2 linked regions of the Homo sapiens genome follow. The protein of the gene in region 1 interacts with the protein of each later gene in a biochemical or structural test. Each region holds a gene or a part of one and is shown on either strand. Other genes may lie near its edges.

The links.
Region 2: the proteins of ANKRD44 (region 1) and USP6 form a complex in vitro, tested with the Homo sapiens proteins (one study listed by BioGRID and IntAct).

What each region holds. Positions count from the first base shown.
Region 1 is NC_000002.12:196,983,547-196,994,863, reverse strand, and holds the end of ANKRD44 (serine/threonine-protein phosphatase 6 regulatory ankyrin repeat subunit B), read left to right. Parts: intron 1-1,189; coding exon 1,190-1,281; intron 1,282-2,055; coding exon of another isoform or gene 2,056-2,108; exon of another isoform or gene 2,109-3,717; intron 3,718-3,767; coding exon of another isoform or gene 3,768-3,784; exon of another isoform or gene 3,785-3,936; coding exon of another isoform or gene 3,937-4,184; exon of another isoform or gene 4,185-5,214; coding exon 5,215-5,273; 3' UTR 5,274-8,202; downstream 8,203-11,317. UniProt on the Homo sapiens protein: Putative regulatory subunit of protein phosphatase 6 (PP6) that may be involved in the recognition of phosphoprotein substrates.
Region 2 is NC_000017.11:5,164,872-5,176,569, forward strand, and holds the end of USP6 (ubiquitin carboxyl-terminal hydrolase 6), read left to right. Parts: intron 1-3,060; coding exon 3,061-3,252; intron 3,253-3,895; coding exon 3,896-4,184; intron 4,185-5,607; coding exon 5,608-6,044; intron 6,045-6,715; coding exon 6,716-6,808; intron 6,809-7,933; coding exon 7,934-8,107; 3' UTR 8,108-10,120; downstream 10,121-11,698. UniProt on the Homo sapiens protein: Deubiquitinase with an ATP-independent isopeptidase activity, cleaving at the C-terminus of the ubiquitin moiety. Catalyzes its own deubiquitination. In vitro, isoform 2, but not isoform 3, shows deubiquitinating activity.

The sequences.
Region 1 (11,317 bases):
TGTTTTAAAGGCAAAGGAATTTTTTTCATTTAAGATTCTTAAGCCGGGCGTGGTGGCTCATGCCTTTAATCCCAGCACTTTGGGAGGCCGAGGCAGTTGGATTACTTGAGGCCAGGAGTTCATGACCCGCCTGGCCAACATGGTGAAACCCCGTCTCTACTAAAAATACAACAACAACAAAATTAGCTGGGCATGATGGTGGGTGCCTGTAACCTCAGCTACTTGGGAGGCTGAGGCAGGAGAATCACTTGAACCTGGGAGGTGGAGGTTGCTGTGAGCTGAGATCGTGCCACTGCACCACTCCAGCCTGGGCAACAAGAGCGAGACTGTCCCCCCACAAAAAAAAAAGAAAAGAAGAAGAAGAAGAAGAAGACTGTTGGCTGGGTGTCGTGGCTCATGCCTATAATCCCGGCACTTTGGGAGGCTGAGGCAAGTAGATCACTTGAGCCCGGGAGTTTGAGACCAGCCTGGCCAACATGATGAAACCCCTTCTCTACAAAAAATAAAAAAATTAGCCAGCCACAGTGGTTTGCACCTGTAGTCCCAGCTACACAGGAGACTGAGGCAGGAGAATCACTTGAGCCCAGCAGAAGGTCAAGGCTGCAGTGAGCTGTGATCGTGCCACTGCACTCCAGCCTGGGTGACAGAGTGAGACCCTGTCTCAAAAAAAAAGAAAAAGATTCTTAAGCAGTATATAGCACAATATACTGAGTTTGACATAATTCTTTAAGGTATTATAAATTCAGTAAAACATCTGTGTGCATTTAGTAGTAACAAGGAAGTTTGAAATTATACATATATATGACTGATATTAATGCCAGTCATATTGTTGAACTGTGTGAAACAGTGATTCAAATGCTGTGTTAGAAATCAAGCAGTAAAGGGCCTTCTGCAAAACACAACAAAGCTTGAGTTCTTCCTCTGTCTTCGTATTTACTGTCATTGAGATTGTTTGAGATGCAGAATATTTGTAATATCTGCAGCAAGATCTGGGCCAAACATACAACAACAGTTGGACCATTAGCACCTGGAAAAGATCTGGTCAGCATTTTTTTTTCTTAAGTAAAAACATCCATGTACTATTTGTAGAGTCTAAGTACTTCTTCCTTTTAGTGACATGGGCTAACAAAAATTCCACATTCTCACCCAAATATGTATCACAACTGATGCTCGGTCTTGTGTTTTTTAGACCCCTCCACGTCGCTGCGCGCAATGGCTTAAAGGTGGTAGTTGAGGAGTTGCTGGCCAAAGGGGCCTGTGTACTTGCTGTAGATGAAAATGGTAAGTGGAAAAAGTCAACAGCGACTGCAGGTACCTTCCATAAGCTAGTTGAAGCCAGAGGAAATGAGAAAGATAGGAGCTAGTATAAAAGGCACTTAAGAATTCTGTCCCCCTTGGAAGTCCTGTGTGTGAGAAATCAAGCAAGGATAACTTGTCCTGTCTGTCTTTTTGTAAATCACATAGTCTACCTGTAGGCCACCCAGTGCTGTCCATTTTGCATGTAATGCCAGCAGCTGGTCTCTAACTCCTCAGCACAGTGGTTAAAATATCTTAGACACACTAAGAGTTTCAAGTTGACACTCAAAATTTTAACTGCAAATGCTGAAGAGTTAGGGACTACACATGTCATTAATGCATGCTCAAGGGCTCAAATAAAAACCTGGATCTTTGATTGTATTTAAGTTCATTCTGAGATCAAACTTTTTTTTTCTTTAAGTACAGATCAGAACTCATATTCCCAGTATGGAAATGTGAGGAACAAGAGTAAAATTTCTTAATTAACGTCTAGGCTTGAAGCTTCCCCTGATCTGTATTAATGTTCCTTTCCTAATGAACTAATTCTTAACAGAAGCTTTCTACTCTGCTTCCTAAGAAATTTTGAAAGGAATGGCTACTAGAATTGTACTAAACTGCCATTTTAAGCACAATGCCTATTAACCTTGGGGAGCAAAAAAGGAACTTCTGGATGTTTATGAATTATGTAATTTTTAAAATGTGGCATTTAATTAAAGTATTATAATGTATTAATGTAACTCAATTAACTGCTTATTACAGGTATTGGAATTAGCAGCTCATGCCTATTTCTCAGAAGTAAGCAGCCATACTGATTATCATTAGCTAACTCTTATTAGTTTTGATTTTGCAGCCCCATGTATCCTAGCATGTACCCTGCTGTGTCCCCCACCTGACTCATCTAGGAAGTGCAGAAAGTTCCCTATTACTCCATTTCCTTGGTTTTCCCGCCTCACCTTCCCTCACCCTCTTAACACTACTGTAGACTTAGGGTTGGCCTGCAGAGGCCCACAGTTTTTCTCCAAAATGGTCAAAGAGAATAGAATAAATTAGTTTTGCTTTTCCTGGTGTAAATCTGCTGCATTGAAGGTTTGTTCAGCTGATAGTGACCTTAGGAACAAGAGCCCTGGGTTGGTGCGCACCTGCATCCCAAAGGCCTGGGAACGTTTGGGGCAATTTTATATAGCAGTACAACCATAATTCCTTTACTCATCACTGACTTTCGTGAAATGGAATGTTAAACTACCTGTTCATTCTTATTTGTTTTCATACCAGAAAAAGGAATGATGTCCTAAAGGGCAGGGTGGGGAGAGCAGGTCGAGTGATGATAAACAAAACAACAAAACGTTAAGTTTCATTGAGCCATTCCTCTGAATTACTGAGCAAGTGCCCTACTCACTGTGTAGTGGAAACTTTGGCCAGCTGAGAAGGCAGCTAACCCTTTTCAGGCCAGTAGGATAAAGGTTGGATAAGGAAATAATCAAGTCAAAGACTTAATCTACCTCCCCAAGGAACCTATATTATGAGTTAAGACAGTTTTCTTATCTGGATTGGATCCATTGAGTCTAAATGAGAATAACATGGTTCTAATTATGACAAGCATAGTAATTTTCTCACATCCATTACATTTTAGATTTGAGACTTTGATTGGTGAGTGGCCATTTTTAAATATTCTGTTAGGCCAGGTGTGATGGCTCACGCCTTTAATCCCAGGACTTTGGGAAGCCAAGGTGGGAGGATCGCTTGAGCCCAGGAGTTTGAGAACAGCCTGGGAAACATAGCAAGACCTTGACTCAAAAAAAAAAAACCAAAAAAAGAAAAAATCAGCCGGTAGTAGTGGCACACACCTATAGTCCCAGCTACTCGGGAGGCTGAGGTGGGAGGATTGCTTGAGCCCGGAAGACAAGGCTGTAGTAAAATCAAGGCCCCATGCCACTACAATCCAGCCTGGGTGACAGAGTGAAACTCTGTCAAAAAAAAAATTTGTTAAATTTCTCCTAAATGATTGTACATTTTTAATCACAAACAACCTGTGCTTTCCTGTCTCTGATCTACTGAAATGATTCCATTTTTCTAAAACCAGTTATTGGTGTCTATTTTCTATGAAGCATATATAAAGTGACAAAACTTCATTACTCACTTTTGCAGTCATCTAATTTTCAATATCTTTTCTAATTGGACACACAATTACCTAACAATGGAAAGTCATTGTTCTCAGAATGAGAGTCCTTCTCAGGCCCAGGCCTGAGGCTCATGGTGTGTGTGTGCTCTCAGGCGGAAACATCCTCCTGATTGTCCTGTTGCTGTTTATTGTGGAATTGTGTCCCACACCCACCCCCTTGTGTTTGTGTTCACTAAATGAAGGCTGGAATCCTGCCTAACTTTGGATGATATTGTGCTTGTCATAGTCATATGAGCTGAAAACAAAAATAAAAAGCCCTCCATAAAATGTCTCCCCCTCCCTCCCCCTCTAGCCTCACCCCTAGCATGACTTGTGAGAAGTAACTCCTCGTTTTACCTGGCATGATTTCTAACTCAACATACATCTCCGCCTGTGAGATCATCCGAGATGTACTGTGGAATGCTCGTGCCTCCTCTAGGCTCCCCAGGACTAACCACTGCCTTGTCTGCATTTACGCCCAGGTCATACCCCGGCCCTGGCTTGCGCTCCTAACAAAGACGTGGCTGACTGCCTGGCCCTCATTTTGGCTACCATGATGCCTTTTTCTCCTTCCAGTACAATGATGGCTGTCAACTTCGTTTGTTTAAAAAAAGACAATTTGAGCAGGACGACCCTCTCCAATCTGGGTAGCATGGTTAGCCTGTGCAGTAACAACGTAGGCTCGGAGGATGGGTACAATGAAAATGATTCTGATTCGGAAACGTTTTGACTTTGGACTGTAGAAGCTTTTCTTTGATCACCTGTGTTGGAGGAAAGGAAAGAAGCTTGAATTCCAGGTTTATGTTGTATTCAAGTATTATTTGGGGCCTGGGCTTCCAGAAGCTAGTAGAGAAGGAATTAATCGAGGGAGGGCAGTGAGGCTGTTGGGTGGAACAGTCACACAGATGGCCCCAGTTTTGTTTTGTTTCACATTTTCTTTAAATCTAAGATACTTCTGTGAAAGTCTACCTCTCATTTTAAATAAAGAATAAAAGATGTATTTAATTCCTGTTCTTTGGGGATAATGCAGCAGAGAGGCAGCTGTTCGCTATGAATAATTTTTCTTTTCATGTATTTAGCAGTGAGTTCTCAGAAGTATATCAGTGTGACATTCATGTCCCCTGGGAGGGAAGGGAAGAGGCAGATAGGAAATGCCTCAAACTTCTTCTCACTTTGATGTTTACTTCCTCACTAGAAGCCAAAGGTAAAGGTGTCCATCTTCAGAAATAATGCCTGTAATAATCTTTTTAGAGAGTCCAACTATTTATATCCTCTCTATAGTAAGCATTTGAATATCCAGAACTTCTTTCTGAGGATCTCTGTTAAAGTTGCCAGATGAATTGAAAAATTGAACTTGCTTTTTTTGTTTAACACAGTGTTCCCTATAACAAGCCTGTGACTAATTTTCACTTAAGTGATTGAACCCAAATTTATCTAATAACATTTCAGGTGAAAATTATATTGCACCAAAACTTTGACACAATATGCAAAAATAGTATGAAACTACCCTTTGTTAATTTATTCTTAAATCAAAATACTAACTTTTAAAAAACATCAGAATCATCAGCATTGTTCATCAGTAGTAAAATGAGCTTCTCAGTCAAGGTCATACCAAGTCAGTGAAAAGTGTGACTGCAAAAAGGAACAAAAAAAGTGAAAGCAGAAAGTAGAAATGGGTGATTTAGCATGTAAAACCGATTGCCAGTTGCTTGATGATGAAATCAACATAGTGAATACTGTGTCTGCTCCCTCTGCCAAAGCTTCTAGGTCAAATGGACCCCGTTCCACACCTGGAACCGCTGTACAAAAAGAAGAATGAGACTCTTTAAAAATTATGCACATACACATGCACACATATATGTGTGCGTGTGTATATATATATATATGTGTGTGTGTGTGTAGTTCATCAGCCAGCTACACATGAGGACCAAAATGCTTCAGTCTAAAATGGAAGATACACATTTTTTTCCTTCAAAATGCAAGTGAGAACTGAAGTAGCTTTTTTATGGAGTTAAATGTAATCTTTCTGTGTACCAGTCTTTGTTGTATTTTATATTTCTTAGGACACAGATTTCTAGTTGACCACTTAACATTTGTAACTGATGATGTGCTGACCTTTTTTTTTTTTTTTGCCAAACTAGAGAAAATGTCCATATACTTTTGCTGTAAATGTGTTTATATTTATTTGAAATGAAACAAATGGTGAGGAAACATCCATTATTTGTTCTCTATTTTAATTGCTATGTATCTTATTTAGAATAACAAAAAAAAAGTGAAAAAAAAAACACTTGACCCTGGGCTAGCCAAAAGCCCAAGGGCCAAACCTAGCATTTCCACTGCTAAGGTTTCCAGATGACCCTCAGGTTCTTCCGCGTTGGTTAGAGAGGGCTACGCATCTTCTACTGCTCAGCCACAGTCTGTAGCCAGCTTAGAGCTTAGAAGACATTGCAGTCTGGATGCCCTTCTGCGAGATGAAAACTCAGATGTGTAGTGGATCATATACACAAAGGCAGCACAAAGAAATATCTAGAAATTACCCTAAGTACACTGAAAAGCTCACATAGTCTCAGTAACCTGATGAGAAATGATGGCAGTGTGTGGGCACATGTGCCAAAAGGAGAAATAAAAATCACCAGCTCAAGTGCTATTTTCTACTTGAGGAAGAGACAGAAAAGAAATGTGTCGAATTAGAGCAGTACTCTCTGACGTTTTATAATGAGTTCCATTTCCACCCTGGAAATTGCTATTTTATAGTGTATGTGAGATATTTCAAAAATAATGTTCTATCATATCTGGATCAAAGACAGATAACTGTATTATATTTTTCATCTAGCTATAAAACTTTAATCTTACTCTTAATATCCTGGATTTAATTAAAACTCCTGTTGGGTTCTTCACAAATGAGAACTTGTTCAAAGGATTTATTGAACTGGTATTGATTTCACTGAAAATTTTCCACACCACCACCATTGTTTTTTTGAATTCTTGGTGTTGTGCTTCCCACCTTCTGTCCTTTTCGTTTGTTTAGAGAAGATGAATTTTTAAAAAGCAGATAAATTGCTAATGAGCAATAATGACCTTATCTTTACCAAAACACTGAAAATTAAGAGAGGTTCAGTGTTGAAGAAGCACAATATGCTGCGGTGTCTTTTTCTAGAAGTGAATGGAAATCTTGCTCAGTTGGCATTTCAAGCAGGAAATGAAATGCTTGCTTTAATGGCAAAGCAGCGTTAACATTTTTCCTGTCGTGTAGCAGAGAGTACAAGAATCATTTCAGCAAAGCAGTGACTCACCATGAGACGTTATCTCCATGGAGCTGCGTTTTGACTTTTCCCACTCTCTTACTCATAGAAGGAGGACAAAGGAACGAAATGAAATCATGCTCACAATGAACTGTTCATTACATCAACTGATCTCTCTCTCTCTCTCTTCCTCTCTTTCTCTTTCTCCCATACCCCAAGGCAAAATTTTTTTAAAGAAATGACTTTAAAAACTATCATTTCTGTATTTTAATTACATCTCTTAGAAATAAAATTATGTTTGCACCATAGCTTTCTAAGAAAAAAAAATGTGTTTTTAACTGAGTCTTAGTTGCTTAGTGCTTTTATTTGTGTTATTTTTAGACTGTATTTTAACCACAACTACAAGGATCATGTTTCATTGCACTTACTTATTTGCCAGTGTCTGCCTGTCTTTGCTAAATACATTACTATCTCCAAATTGCCTAAAATCTGCTATGATTCTACAGTAAATAGCTCAGGGTATTTCTATTTATCACTACTAAAAGGGCACCATAGTATGTTTTGGTACTTTAGGCAGTAAACACTGCTTGGTTTATCATTTTGTTATTAAATTAGAACAAGAACATCAAATGGATTTGCTGCACTAGTTATTCTTTGTACTGTTGAGCAACTTGGTGTGCTTATATGTTGTGTTGGTTGAAGAACTCATCCGTTTTATTGTCTTGTAATATGAAGTTAGAGTGCCTTTTTATATTTGTATATTCTGAAAATGTTCTGTGGAATGTTTTGTATTTTTTCATTTGAGTGTTATCAGAGCAATATGATACCAGTGAGTTTTCATTTCAACTTTTCTTTGAATGTATAAAGTGTCTTTTTTCCTATTTCCCCTTGTACTTGCATTGAAATGAATATGAAAATGCTTAAGTTTTCTATAGGAATTGTTTGATTTTGCAGTGCTAAAATGCTTTCGTCTTACGAAACTATAAACCATAGGTCAGTATTATAGGGGAAAAGCATTTTAAGATAGTGACAATCTGAGTGTTTGTATAAAATGTAATTCTATGCGTTTCTTATGTGATCTAAAAATTCAATGCAAATATCTTTTATTTGGTAGTTTTGTCTACATATTTTATGCTCTAGCATGTGCAATATATCTTTGTAAAGCACGATGATACAAATCTGGTGCCAGTGTTATATTTTGCATAACATATTTGTAACAGCATAAAATATTGTTTGATGATTTCAGTGGGATTTTGTCTATAATGTTTTCTTATGTAAATTGGAGTTGAATGACTCTGGTAAATGTCATGACTGTAAAAATGGGGAAAATGACTTTTAGTTCAGTGAATGACTTTGAAACAATCTGAATCTTCTCAAGCACAGTTTAATACTTTTGCAACTACTGAATGCTCTAATAACGTAATGAAGTACTTAACTGTAATATACTATGGAAATGCATTCAGATGGTTATTTTTACAAATAAAAACGGTACAAATATTGTTGGAATTTGTGTTTTAATTTTTCCAATTTATGCTTTTTCTAAATTATGCTAATTTAAATCTTTGCACCCCCTCAAGCCAAATTAACTTTAAATTTAGAAAATAATCAAGATAAAAGTGTATCTCCAGATTCACGATTTATGTTTGTGTTATCACAATTAGAGAAAAAATTCAAACATATATGCTTGTGTTTATTATATGTATTTATGCTTCCAACTTTTTTCCATAAAGGGTTTTGTTTTGTTTTGTTTTGTTTTGTTTTTTTCTGCTCTGTTGTCCAGGCTGATGGGCAGTTGTGAGATCTCGGCTCACTGCAGCCTCGACCTCCTGGGCTGAAGTAATCTTCCTACCTCAGCCTCCCGAGTAGCTGGGACTACAGATGTGCACCACTATGCCTAGCTAATTTTGTTTTTTTGTAGAGATGGGGTCTCACTATATTGCCCAGGCTGGCCCATAAAGGATTTGAGCTGGGTTATGACAAAAGACGTGATAAACTAGAAATAGAAAAATGAGAACAGAGAAAAAGAATACAAACAGATAAAGGAACCATAAAATTTAAAACAGTATCTGTGACTGAACTTGTGTTTGCTCTCAGCTTCCTTGCAGCCAAGGTAAGAGGAGAAATGTGATCAGTTATATAGTCCACATCAAAAAAGAGGAAGCTTATTAGGTCCTCAAAATTGTGAAATCAACCATGCCTAACTTTGGTATTGTCACCATTACCCTTCAGGGACTTTATAACAACACAAGAACCTCCATCTCTGCACTATCCTTAAAGGTATCCATAGAATTTCCTTCCCCATCTATCTCACCATCCAAAATTTTTCATCTTGAGTAGTAACTTCAGGGACAGTCTCTGGAAGCACTAAGGAACAAATTCCTAATGATGGAGTTTCCAGCTATTGACGAAGAGACTTGGGGGTGGTGCCTGCCTGAGTTCCCCAAATCAAGTAGTATAGAATGTTAGCAGTTATTACAGTCCAGCCCAGTCACATCACCAGCTCTTTCAGGAAGAAACTGAATCCTAGAGAAGTTATACAACTTGAATTTTTGAAGATAGTGATCTGATGATACCACATCTGCCTCTAGATGTTCTCTCTTCGATGCCATCTTGCCATATAATGTTTTGTTTTTTTCTGCCAGAAATGTTAAGGGAGGTTTTGTACTCAGCCCTGCCTCCCTTCTTATTCAAATATACAAATCTGGGTGCTTTTCAATCTTAAAGAATGTAAAACAGGAGTCACACCACAAGTGAGTGCTTCCTGTTGTTTAGAGTAGACTGGGTATATTAGTTATCTATTGCTGTGTAACAAATTACCCCAAAACTTAGTGGCTTAAAACAACAAATGTTTCCTAACCCACAGTTTCTATGAGTCAGCCCTAGTTTAGCTGGGTCTTCTGTTCCAGGGTCTCTCACAGCCTGTAATCATGGTGTTGGCCTGGGAACGATCCATTTCTAAGTTCACTCATATGGTTGTTGGCAGGATTCTTCTCATGGGTTGTTACACTGAGGGCCTCAGTTCCTTGATGGCTGTTGGCTGCCGTCCGTTCCTTGCCAGATGGGCCTTCCCATAGGGAAGCTCACAACATGGCAGCTTGCCTTGCGGGCGAGCAGGCTGAGAAAAGCCAGGGAGACAAAGAGCAAGACAGAGTCACAGATTTTTGCAACTGAATTTCAGAAGTGATATTTCATCATTTTTCTCATATTCTATTCATGAGAAGCAAGTTACTAAGTCCAATCTATACTCAAGGGCAAGGGATTCCCCAAGGGTGTGAACAGCAGGAACAGCAATTACTAGGAGCCATTTTTGGAAGCTACTCGCCACCCTGGTCTATCACGGTGTCCTTTGAGGCTGTAACATCATACTAATACACCTTCTTCCCAGTCATTGCTAAGGAAATTGCTTGCTTGACTGACTGAACTCACCCTTTCAAGGAAAATGTAGAGATCCCTAATTTTAATTGTGTTCTCATAAGCAGAGAAATGTGATAATGGCCTCCACTGTGGTAATTATATTTTTGAACATTGATGTGGCACTTTGTCTTCAAACTGCTTGTCAAAGGTTCCTTCACGCTAATTCCATTTGGTAGGTTTAGATCCCTGTATAAGTATCCCTCACTTAACACACTTAATGTGTTCCAGAATTAGTTTGCAAAGCACAAAAGCATTAAGCTAAAAGGCTATTAACATAAAAACATTGTGGGTAAAAGTACTATATGAATTGTCTCTTTAGCAAATTTCATCCTGAAGGTACATTTGCTGTAAAATATAAAGCACCAAGATAATGGCTGTGCCATTCATTAATTCTCAGGCACTCTAGGGAGTGATTGGAAATGTGTGGGCATTTGTAGTTGGCACAATGGCTGGGGGGTGGGCAGGGCTGCTACTAGAGTATTTATAGTTCCAAGCGCCAGGGAGACCAAATGTGCCACTCAACCCAGGGAATAACTGCGCCACTTAGAATGTCAATGCTCCTCTACCCCACTGCTCACCTATTTGCCTTTCTCTTGTTTCTGAATCATTTCTTCATCAATGTATTGCTTATGACACTAGCCATATTGCCTCATCTATTTTCACAAGGGATTGCATAAACATACTTTATATGCCCTCAGAACGAGAACTTACAAGGTTGAGAAAGAACTTTGGAAGGCAATGCTGAGCACATGTGCCCTGGTTATGTATTTTTCCAGGGGAGAAGATTTGCACAGATCAAGGCATCTTTAATTCCTTTGTTATCAAACCAAAATGTGGCCATACACATGTATATTTCTTGTCTTAAGCAAGAGGTGATTGTATCTACTTTCCCAGTGGGGGGAACTCCTGCTCACAAAGGTGGGGCACTTGGCCCACCGTCACATGGCAAGCTCTGACAACACAGTACTTCAGCCTCACAGGGTTCTCTAGGCACTGGTGGACACAATTTCTAGGATACTATTTTCTGCTTTTAAATGTCAATTTAATGAAGTACTGTGTATTACATTCTGGAAGAATTTTATAATTTTCAAAAGTAAAAATACTGAAGCAGTACTTTTAGAGCACAAAAAGCTTACCTGTGTTTGCATTGAGTTGAAAGTACCCAGCAAATTCGTGAACTTTATTTATATTTTTTATAGTTGGGGTT
Region 2 (11,698 bases), on another chromosome or scaffold:
CTCTGTAATTACTCCATAATTTGCAGGCAAATATCATCATAGCATTTTTTAGGAGAGTAAAAAGTTATTAACAACTTATATTTGTCTCACATTAGAGGAATGGTTAAATAAAGCATGGTGTATTCATTGGATAAAATATAATGCAGTTGTTGAAAATGATTACTAGGAGTTTTTGCTAACATTTATGGGAACATGCTTACGATATGTGAACATTGTTTTAAAAACAAGACATAAAGTTGCATATACTGGAAATAATACCTTCAATATTGAAAAAAATACTATTTAGGAAAAAGGACAGAAGAAAATCTGCCAATATTTTGACAGTGGGTTGCCTTTGTATTAAGAATATAACAGGATTCCCTGCCTTTTTACATTTTTCTCTGCTTTCCAAAATTTCCACATGAATATTATACCTAGTAATCAGAAAAAAATAGAGGGGCAATCACTCTTATCCTTTATATTTCTCTCCTGTTTGGACCTCAGATTCCTCAGTAGAAAATGAAACTAGATGCCAGCCTGGGCAATATGATGTCACCCTGTCTTTACAAAAAATGCACAAATTAGCCAGGTGTGGTGGTGTGCACCTATAGTCCCAGCTGCTTGGGAGGCTGAGGATGGAGGATTGCTTGAGCCCAAGAGATCAAGGCTGCAGTGAGCTGTGATCTCGCCAGTGCACTCCAGCCTGGGTAACAAAGCAAGACCCTGTCTCAAAACAAAACAAAACAAAACAAAAACAAAAAAGAAAAAAAAATTAAACTAGACAAATTCTTAGGCCTCTCTCTTTAATAGTCTTATATGAAAACTATTACTTCATTTCCTGTGTTTTGTGTTAAAGATGAGCTTTAAAGCAACTCTGAAAAAGAAGAGGGTTCCTATAGGTAATTTATAGACTATTTAAACAGTAGTAGAGGATCTAAGCATAGATCCCAAGAGGTAAAGGGAATCTTTATCACTTTGGGAACTTTTACTGATAAATAGAAATTACTGTCAGTACAGTCCACAAATATGTTGTTTATCAGCCATCTTTCCTCCCTGTCTTCCTCTAGCACTGTAGCCTGTGTTCCCCAGAAAATATGGTCAATAAAATTCAACATTCTTTACTAGCTTACTCTCATTTGTGGTTGGCCATAAAGTATTCCTGGTAGAGATAATAGAGATAATGTTTAACTGGCCATGAGAAAGGAAACACTATCGTATATGATACACCCCTTTTTCTACTCATTCCAACAACGATGATACAGCACGTTTCCTTTTGAAGCACGTGTTTTTTCCTTGAGTGACCAGTTCAAAAGATGATGACAGTTAATATCTTGTTACTACAGAATTTGTACTCAAAAAAGAAGTCTATAACCCAAGTCCAAGCCAGATTTCCTTTTCTAAAAAAAGAATTTTCCTCTAAGTTCCCCTTTTTAAATGAGCTCTTTAGCCTGGGTAGTTATGCAGTGCTAGAACCGTAACTGCATGATCAAACCCAACCTTGCTAGTTTATAACAGCATTTGACAGCCTCGTGACTCTCATGTAGGGAAAAAGTCTCGCCTGAAAACCCATGCTAAGCTGAATGTCTTGAGCTGTGCCAATTTGTATTCCAGGCAGCCTAAGGTTCCCATCATGAGTTTCAGGAAGGGAAATTCATGGAGGAAGTTCACCTCTGGAAGGGAGGAGCAATAAATAGGGTGGGTGATGGACATATGTGACATTTGCCACAGAGAGGCAGTCAGTGTGGGCCTTGTGGTCCGGGCTGTGCTTTGGGACACAAATATATACTGTGTGAAGTCTTAACGGTAGCATTCATAACCCTGATGCTTCACCCACCTTCCCATACATTAGAGGGACAAACAGAAGGATCCCAGCTCTATGGTTCTTGATTGTTTGTCAGGTAGCAGCCAGGCATGGAGAGGGAAAAATTCTTTCTCTTCTGCTGCATTCTAGATCCTTCCTTCTCTCCTTCTTCATTCTACACCACCCCCAACATACATCCCTGCACCCCGCCCATTCTTTGCTCTCTCTCCTTTCTTACACTTGACTCCTTCTTGCTCCACAGCCTAACATGCTGATTAACAGGACCCCAAAGGTTTGGGTGGGTATTAGAGGCCTTCTCAACAAAAGCAGCACACTCTTGAGCTTGTTCTTCCTTTTGTTGCCATCTCAGATAAAAAGGCCCCATGAGGGAGGAGACAGATAATTATAGACTTGGTATTCTGATAACTCTGTGTTACATGGGATCAGATGCAAATGAGTTGTACCCTGTGGTGTTTCATGCTCTGCTGTGTTGTCTTCTCATGGTGAGCTTTTCTGTGCCCTCATTTCATCCAGCTCTGGTTTCTGTGTTTCATGTTATTTCTCCTAGCCTCGTAAACTCTGCAGCATACTAATAATGCTCTGGCTTTCTGATTAAAAATAAATGGCTTACTATCAGCACCCCTGGCTTGAGGGCCAGCTCACATGTAACCCCTTATAGGATTCCAAAGTTGTTAAATAAATTCAATTCTTTTTGTTTTTGTCATTTTGAAGCATTCAAAAATCTTTCAAGAAAAGTTATGGTCATATAAACAGAAATTTTATCCAGAATGTTACTGATGTAACATTTGTGAATAAATGTGTAGGTGTTGTATTTGCTCGGACTCTAGTTTGGGTTGTGTTTTCTTTTCCCTTTTTTTGAGACAAGGTCTCTCTCTGTCATCCGGGCTGGAGTGCAGTGGCGTAATCACAGCTCACTGCAACCTCTACCTCCCAGACTCAAGCAATCCTCCTGAGTAGCTGGGACTACAGACATGCGCCACAATGCCCAGCTAATTTTTAGATTTTTCTTTTACTGAGACAGGGTCTCACTCTGTTGGCCAGGCTGGTTTTGAACTCCTGGACTCAAGCGATTCCCCCCACCTCGGCCTCCTAAAGTGCTAGGATTACAGGCCTGAGCCATCATACCCAGCCAGTTGTATTTTCTTTTTCCTTATAAAGAGTAAAATAAGGGTGAGTGACCGAGCGGTTGATGCATAGCTAGATCACCAGTTTAAATGCCTTCCCACACACCCCTTTCCTCCTGTTCCCTCTACCTACAGGTTGTAGATAAGCATGAGAGTGTGGAGCAGAGTCGGCGAGCGCAAGCCGAGCCCATCAACCTGGACAGCTGTCTCCGTGCTTTCACCAGTGAGGAAGAGCTAGGGGAAAGTGAGATGTACTACTGTTCCAAGTGTAAGACCCACTGCTTAGCAACAAAGAAGCTGGATCTCTGGAGGCTTCCACCCTTCCTGGTATGTTACGGTCCTGCCTCTGAGAGAGCAGGAATCTAGCATAAAAGAAAGAAGACATGAACAAACAGGAGGTTTTGTTATTTTTGAGAATAAGACTTTTCCTGCAGCAGTGTTTAAAACACATTCTGTACAAGGTTTTTATGTTGAATACAGAGATGAATCTTTCTACAAATATTTGGTAGTTCCTTTTCCTAAAAAGCTCATAACCTAGAAGAAGAGATCAATCATGTAGCCCAGTAACTGCAATTCAGTGCGATGTGAGAACTGCCACAAGGGGTACAACGTGGTGAATGTGAACTTCAGGAGAGGGTGAACTTCTGGCTCTGTGGAGAGAGGAAGCTTAGGCTAGCCCTTTGTGGACTCTAGAAGAGCAACTGAGCCCGGGGGCAATACCCACTGCACATAGTCACGTGGCTGTGGCCACACTGCTGAGTTGAGCGCGTGTGCACAAGGACGCCAGTGCACTAGGGCCTGTGTAGAGGCCTTTATGAAACCATATTTTTGAAGTCTTTAAAAAATAATGAAGAGTAAATGTTCTGTTATATATTTCCAAACATTCACATGTATTTGACTTGTTTTTTCCATGTAAATTTTGTATCTTCAGAACCCTTTAATGCGATGTTTTCTACCTTTACTTCTCCAGATTATTCACCTTAAGCGATTTCAATTTGTAAATGATCAGTGGATAAAATCACAGAAAATTGTCAGATTTCTTCGGGAAAGTTTTGATCCGAGTGCTTTTTTGGTACCACGAGACCCGGCCCTCTGCCAGCATAAACCACTCACACCCCAGGGGGATGAGCTCTCCAAGCCCAGGATTCTGGCAAGAGAGGTGAAGAAAGTGGATGCGCAGAGTTCGGCTGGAAAAGAGGACATGCTCCTAAGCAAAAGCCCATCCTCACTCAGCGCTAACATCAGCAGCAGCCCAAAAGGTGAGGCCTGGGGGCCTTATGCAGTTGCTTTCTTGGGACTCCTGTAGGCTACATATGTTTCTCTGTCTTCTGTTCTGGAACATCAGGTTGGTTGGGTGGAAGGAACCTATCTGGAATCAGACCTATCTGTATTTGAGCTATGTAAGTTGTAGCAAGAGATTCAGCCTCCCTGAATCTATTTCCTCATCTGTAAAATGGAGATAATGCCAGGTTTACAGAGTTGAGAGTTTGACACATGGAGAGTAAAGCACTTCACACAGTGCCTGATGTATGGTAAACAGGAATGGTAGCTGCTGTCTTGTCCCCTTATAGTGAAAGTTCTGAGGTTCCCCATCTTTCAGGGGGTCTAGAGGATCAAAACTCCTTTTTTATTTATTTATTTTATTTTTTGTTTTTTTGAGACAGGGTCTCACTCTGTCACCCAGGCTGGAGTGCAGTGGTGCAACACAGATCACAGCTCACTGCAGCCTGGACCTCCTGGGGTCAATCAATCCTCCCACCTCAGCTTCCTGAGTAGCTGGGACTACAGGCATGCACCACTGCACCTGGCTAATTTTTGTATTTTTTGTAGAGATGGTGCTTCGCCATGTTTCCCAGGCTGGGCTCGAACTCCTGCACCCAAGTGAACCTCCTGCTTCGGCCTCCTAAAGTGCTGGGATTACAGGTGTGAGCCACTGTGCCTGGCCCAAAATGATTTTCATAAAAATACTGAGAAAATATGTGCTTTTTCACTTTTTTTCTCTCACAGATGTACAATGGTGTAAGAGAAAACATGACATGGAATAATATCGTCACTTTGACAGTGAAGTCTGTGCTAATGTATTGTACTTTTTCATTCCTCAGTTTTAATTTCTAATACAGGAAATATTGATAGATAAAATTCACATAAAAGTTCTAAAGGTTCTCAATAATTTTTAAAGGTATAAAAGGGGGTAGGGGTAAGAGGCTATAACTAAAAGGTTTAAAGCCTTGCAGGATTTTTGTGAGACACAGAGGTAACAACGGACAGCAGGAAATTCCCAGTACCATGCCTAACAATAGGAAGTACTCAGTAAATGGTGGTCACATTTTTTGTCTAATTTTACAAAGGAGAGGAATATGTATTTGGAAAACTCCTTACTCTAATAGTTGGATTTTTTTCAACTGAATCATCATAAATCATAATCATCTTTCTGCTGTTTTCTGAGTCCCTATAATGCACTTTACATTTTCAGGACATTGTTGCTTATAGGGACTTGGCATTGAAGAAGACAAAAATGTAACTTACTGGCTACACAATAGGAACCAAAGGGTAGCCAGTCATGACTCCCCTGTCTTTACCTTTGTGTGTACAGTTGCAAAGCTAACCTCGGAGTTAGCATTTGGGGCTGGCTTACTTTCTGGCATTTGGATTTGTGAATCTTTTCTTCTGTCCTGTTCACAGGTTCTCCTTCTTCATCAAGAAAAAGTGGAACCAGCTGTCCCTCCAGCAAAAACAGCAGCCCTAATAGCAGCCCACGGACTTTGGGGAGGAGCAAAGGGAGGCTCCGGCTGCCCCAGATTGGCAGCAAAAATAAGCCGTCAAGTAGTAAGAAGAACTTGGATGCCAGCAAAGAGAATGGGGCTGGGCAGATCTGTGAGCTGGCTGACGCCTTGAGCCGAGGGCATATGCGGGGGGGCAGCCAACCAGAGCTGGTCACTCCTCAGGACCATGAGGTAGCTTTGGCCAATGGATTCCTTTATGAGCATGAAGCATGTGGCAATGGCTGTGGCGATGGCTACAGCAATGGTCAGCTTGGAAACCACAGTGAAGAAGACAGCACTGATGACCAAAGAGAAGACACTCATATTAAGCCTATTTATAATCTATATGCAATTTCAGTAAGTGGTTTATTATACGGTTTTCAGAGAGTGGTCTGTGTTTTGTTCACTTGTCTTCATGTATTCATCAGCAAGTATTTTTCAGGTCCTGCTAATTTCCTAGCATTGAGCTTAGTGATAGACAAAGTTAACATTGAAATCTGGGCTCACAGATGTGGTGTGGTGGCTCACACCTGTAATCCCAGCACTTTAGAAGGCTGAGACAGGAGGATCGCTTGAGCCCAGGAGTTTGAGACCAGCTGCTTGGGCCCCGTCTCTACAAATAATTTTAAAATGGAGCGAGGTATGGTGGCATGTGCCTGTGGTCCCAGCTACTTGAAAGGCTGAGGCAGAAGGATCACCTGAGCCCAGAAGGTCAAGTCTTTAGAGAGTTGTGATCACTCGACTGCACCCCAGCCTGGGTGATAGAGCAAGCCCCTGTCTCAAAATAATAATAATAATAATAGTAATTACAATTATAAAATGATTGTTTATCCACACAAGACTTGGAGCTTATGACTTTTGTATTTTGCTTTTTGCTTATTTTGGTTTTAGAGAAAGAGGGTTCTAAAATATTTTCTCACCTATTGATCATTTACATGATCAGTGTTCTCCTGCTCAGATCTTAGTGCTATACCCTGGCCATAGTACAGTTAACTACTAACATACCTCCACTCTCTTATCTCTTACAGTGCCATTCAGGAATTCTGAGTGGGGGCCATTACATCACTTATGCCAAAAACCCAAACTGCAAGTGGTACTGTTATAATGACAGCAGCTGTGAGGTAAACATTCTCAATCTTTGAATGAAAGTTAGAATATCAACAGAACTGGGGAACATTTGTTGAAATAATGGACTATCTCTTGAATAGGAAATAGATATTTCTGTTAGAATTAATATATAGATGCTGTCAGTATTAAAGGAACAAAAGTGATATGCAGAGCAGGGAATGAAAACATGAGTAGTGAGGAAAAATAAAGAGTTAGTTGACCGGGCGCAGTGGCTCATGCCTGTAATCCCAGCACTTTGGGAGGCTGAGGCAGGCTTAGGAGGTGGATCACTTGATGTCAGGAGTTCGAGACCAGACTGGCCAACATGGTGAAACCCCATCTCTACTAAAAATACAAAAATTAGTTGGGCATGTTGGCGCATGCCTGTAATCCCAGCTACTCGGGAGGCTGAGGCAGGAGAATGGCTTGAACCTGGGAGGTGAAGGTTGCAGTGAGCCAAGACTGCACCACTGCACTCCAGCCCGAGCAACAGAGCAAGGCTCTGTCTCAAAAAAAAAAAAAAAAAGTAGTTAGTTAATGCAAAAAGCTCCTATCTTCTAGACTGTTAGAATTTGATGGGGTTGGGCCGAGCGCGGTGGCTCATGCCTATAATCCCAGCACTTTGGGAGGCCAAGGTGGGCGGATCATGAGGTCAGGAGATAGAGGCCATCCTGGCTAATATGGTGAAACCCCATCTCTACTAAAACTACAAAAAATTAGCCAGATGTGGTGGCACATGCCTGTAGTCCCAGCTGCTCGGGAGGCTGAGGCAGGAGAATCGCTTGAACCCGGGAGGCAGAGGTTGCAGTGAGCTGAGATTGCACCAGTGCACACCAGCCTGGTGACAGAGCGAGACTCCATCTCAAAAAAATAAATACATACAAAATAAATAATTAGAATTTGATGGGGTTTTAGGTCATTCTGTTTTGACTTGTCTATGGTCAAAATATTTTCCCCAAAGCAAACATTGGAAATAATGGGGCTCATTTTAAAGGGGCAGGTGTGAGACAGCCAAACTAGTGAGCTTATTGGAAGCAATCAGGTTAGTAATTACAGAGGGTTGGTCTTCCCTTTCCTGGCAAGGATTTAGAGTCATAATAGTGATGGCTTTTTGTTAAAGGTTTTTCTTGCCCTTTCAGGAACTTCACCCTGATGAAATTGACACCGACTCTGCCTACATTCTTTTCTATGAGCAGCAGGGGATAGACTACGCACAATTTCTGCCAAAGATTGATGGCAAAAAGATGGCAGACACAAGCAGTACGGATGAAGACTCTGAGTCTGATTACGAAAAGTACTCTATGTTACAGTAAAGCTACCACTCTGGCTGCTAGACAGCTTGGTGGCGAGGGAGATGACTCCTTGTAGCTGATACTTGGCAAAAGTGTCACTGAAAGACAAGCTAAATGTAGTTATTTTATCCTGTTAGAACAAAAATTCTAATTAAAATAGTTAACTTGAAGAGTAGAAACAATTGTATTTTGAAGTCTCATACAAGCTGTCTGATAGAGAACTTTCAGGCAGATCCCACCATTAGCCTGTAAACAAAAGGTGTGGCACCAGCCACCTGGGACCAAATAAGAATTGAATTGTGCTTGTCCAGATATGAACAAATATGTAGTGAGTATAGAGTTTACCAATAATCATAACAAATATTAAAGATTTCCTTGGAGTCAGAGGAAAAAACAAACAATTATAATGTTGTCTAGGGACGACATGATACGCTACCTCCTTTTTCCTGAAGTTTTATTCCATTATATTGACAAGATGGAGAAAGCAAGATCATGAAGGTGTGCAAATGATTCTTACGGCATGGACAAGGATTTTTCAATTTATTTTTTAAACTGTTTCCATACCCTTTCTTTTTCTTGCTTTTTGTTTTTGCCATTGTGTTTACGTTTGAGACACAACCAGTCATTGGTGGCAGGGGCATAGAGTGGTCAGTCTGAAAGGGAGGCTCTCTTAAGAGCTATGTGCCTTCCAACCAGAGGGAGACCCAGTAGAAAGAAAAACATCCTGGGAAATCCAGCTACCAGGGCCCTCCCAGTGGAGGCATCTTACATTTAGGCTACTTCAAGTATCCTCAGAAATGTATTCTGCACCCCCGGCCCCGCCCATGCTGAGGGAAGGGGAGCAGTTGCCAATATTTGCACCATCTTCACATGCACATGTTGCAACAAGAGCTTCTGGGAAGGTAAGCGGCATCGGAGCTAGATCACGTTTCACAATTAGTGGTTATTCTTTTCTGTGTTTGTTTTGCACTTTAAAAAAGAGAGAACACATGCAAATGAACTTGCTTGTGTGTATTTGATGGCTCTAAGGGCTATAAATTACAAACAAAACACATCCCAGACATTAGGAGTTCATAAGTATATTTAATGAAATTGGTGGTTTTAGGAAGTCAACTTTAGTTTTGCTTTGTTTGCATGTCCACTGGTTTTTTTATTTTGATATTTGTCTTTTTTTAAATTTTACAGTAGTCATTGAAAGTTATGTTTCTTTGCTTACTTCATTTTTTCCCTCTAATTATTTAAGATTGGAACAAAAGTATAAATATTATTTATTTGAGGTAGAATTTTTTTCATGTAGTTTCTTAATATATACTTGAAGGAAATGTTTCACCTTATTTTTGGTCTTTGTTTATTCATTTAGACCCTGCAAGTTGATTCTCATTGCCAGATTCCATTACCCTTTCTTCCTCATAGGTAGTAATTACCAATGTAACTAAGCATTTGTGTTCTGATATCTGAGGCCAGTAACTATTAATATCTAGTTCTCAGAGCATTTGGAAAGGTTATCTTAAATGGCTACCTAAATTGAAATCCTTTTCAGAAAAAATATAATTGCAAGTAGGTAGGAGTGGCCTAAATTGTCTAATGTAATAAAGTCAGACAAAATGCACACTTTATAGTTTCAAGATTTTCAGTAAATAAAATCTGTCCATTCCTACCTGGACATGTCCCATTAAAAAGTGGAAGATTTTAAATAATTTCTTTACAGATGTTTTATTTAAACAGGTAGCACAATCTACTAATGTTGTGTGATTTGTGTTATACTGGTTGTAATTAATTTTTTTAATTCATGAACTAGCGGAAAATTTATTAAATTAACTATTAACTACATTCACCTTGTAAATTACTGTATAAAACTTGTTGACAATGCACTGACTTTAGAAAGATGTTAATGTACATAAATAGAGTGTAAATAAAATAGTGTTGATGTACTGAAATATGAACTGTATCAAAAGTATTGGTAATTGTATATGGGGTGTACCTGTTTATCTGTTAACTATTATCCAAACAAATTAAATACTGTGGTTGCCTCTATGTGCTGTTTTTCCTCATACAAGTAAACACAGAAAGTCAAATTCTTCAGCCTCCCTCTCTGTGATCCTGTTTTAATTCTCCTACTTGAATAATTTCTTTCTGACTTGTATACAGAGGGGATGCTTCATCTCTGAGGTTGGAAACTCTGTAGAGCAGGATTCCCCAACTCCTGGGCTACAGACCAGTACTGTCCATGGCCTGTTAGGAACCGGGCTGCACAGCAGGAGGTGAGTGGCGAGCTGTATTTATAGCCGCTCCCCCTTGCTCCCATTACCGCCTGAGCTCTGCCTCCTGTTAGATCAGCAGCGGCACGCCATTCTCACAGGAGAAAGAACCCTATTGTGAACTGCGCATGCTAGCAATCTAGGTTGTGTGCTCCTTATGAGAATCTAATGCCTGATGATTTGAGGTGGAACAGTTTTATCCTGAAACCATTCCCCCCATCCCCCCAGTCCGTGGAAAAATTGTCTTCCACAACACCCATCCCTGGTGCCAAAAAGGTTGGCAACCACTGATGTAGAGGGTAGAACAAGATCTCTCCAGTGACCAGGTGACTTTAAACATGGCTCACATCCCTTTTAGAAAGTTATGGCAGGGAAGCAAGTAGAGAGCAGGTGGTAAACTGAGGATTGGTGCCTACATTGGTACCTACAGTGGGTCCTACAGTCATTTTTGTGCAGATCAGGAGATGAGGTGAAGAGAAGGAAAGCTTCTCATTTGCATAATGCCTTGAAATGACCCTAGGTTTCTAGCGGGCACCGAGAAACCAGAGATGCCCCTTGTTGTCTGTCTGGGAGATCCAAGGAGACATCTGGCAGTGTTGAGAAGAGATGAAGGTGACAGCTGTAGGTCCTTCACCCTCAGCTTCTATTTGTTCACCTATAAAGTTAAAATACGGAACACTCAGGCTTGTAAGAATTAAATGAAGGACACAAACCCTGGCACAGTTGCTTGGTAAGTGCTCAATCCAACGATATTCAATCCTATTTCACAAAGAGGGATTTTTTGTTTGTTTTGTTGTTTGTTTCTTTACCTCCTTGCTACACCGACGCTAAAAGAGTTTAATAGTACTCTGTTCACATTTTCCAAAAACAAGAATACACATTAAAAATGTATAAAATGGGCCAGGCCCAGTGGCTTACACCTGTAATCCCAGCACTTTGGAAGGCCAAGGCAGGCGGATCACCTAAGGTTGAGAGTTCCAGGCCAGCCTGACCAATATGGAGAAACCCCGTCTCTACTAAAAATACAAAATTAGCCAGGCATGGTGGTGCATGCCTGTAATCCCAGCTACTTGGGAGGCTGAAGCAGGAGAATTGCTTGAACCCGGGAGGCAGAGGTTGCAGTGAGCCGAGATCACGCCATTGCACTCCAGCCTGGGCAACAAGAGCAAAACTCTGTCTCAAAAAAAAAAAAAAAAAAAAAGAATAAAATGAAACATGTTGAATCAGCAGCAGTGGCAGCTTGTTTAAGGAACAAACAAACAGAAAATTAATACGGAAAGTCAAAAAATGAAGCACAACTCTTTTAAGTGCCAGTCTGTTTTTAGGTTTCTTCTTTTTTTTTTTTTAAATAGAG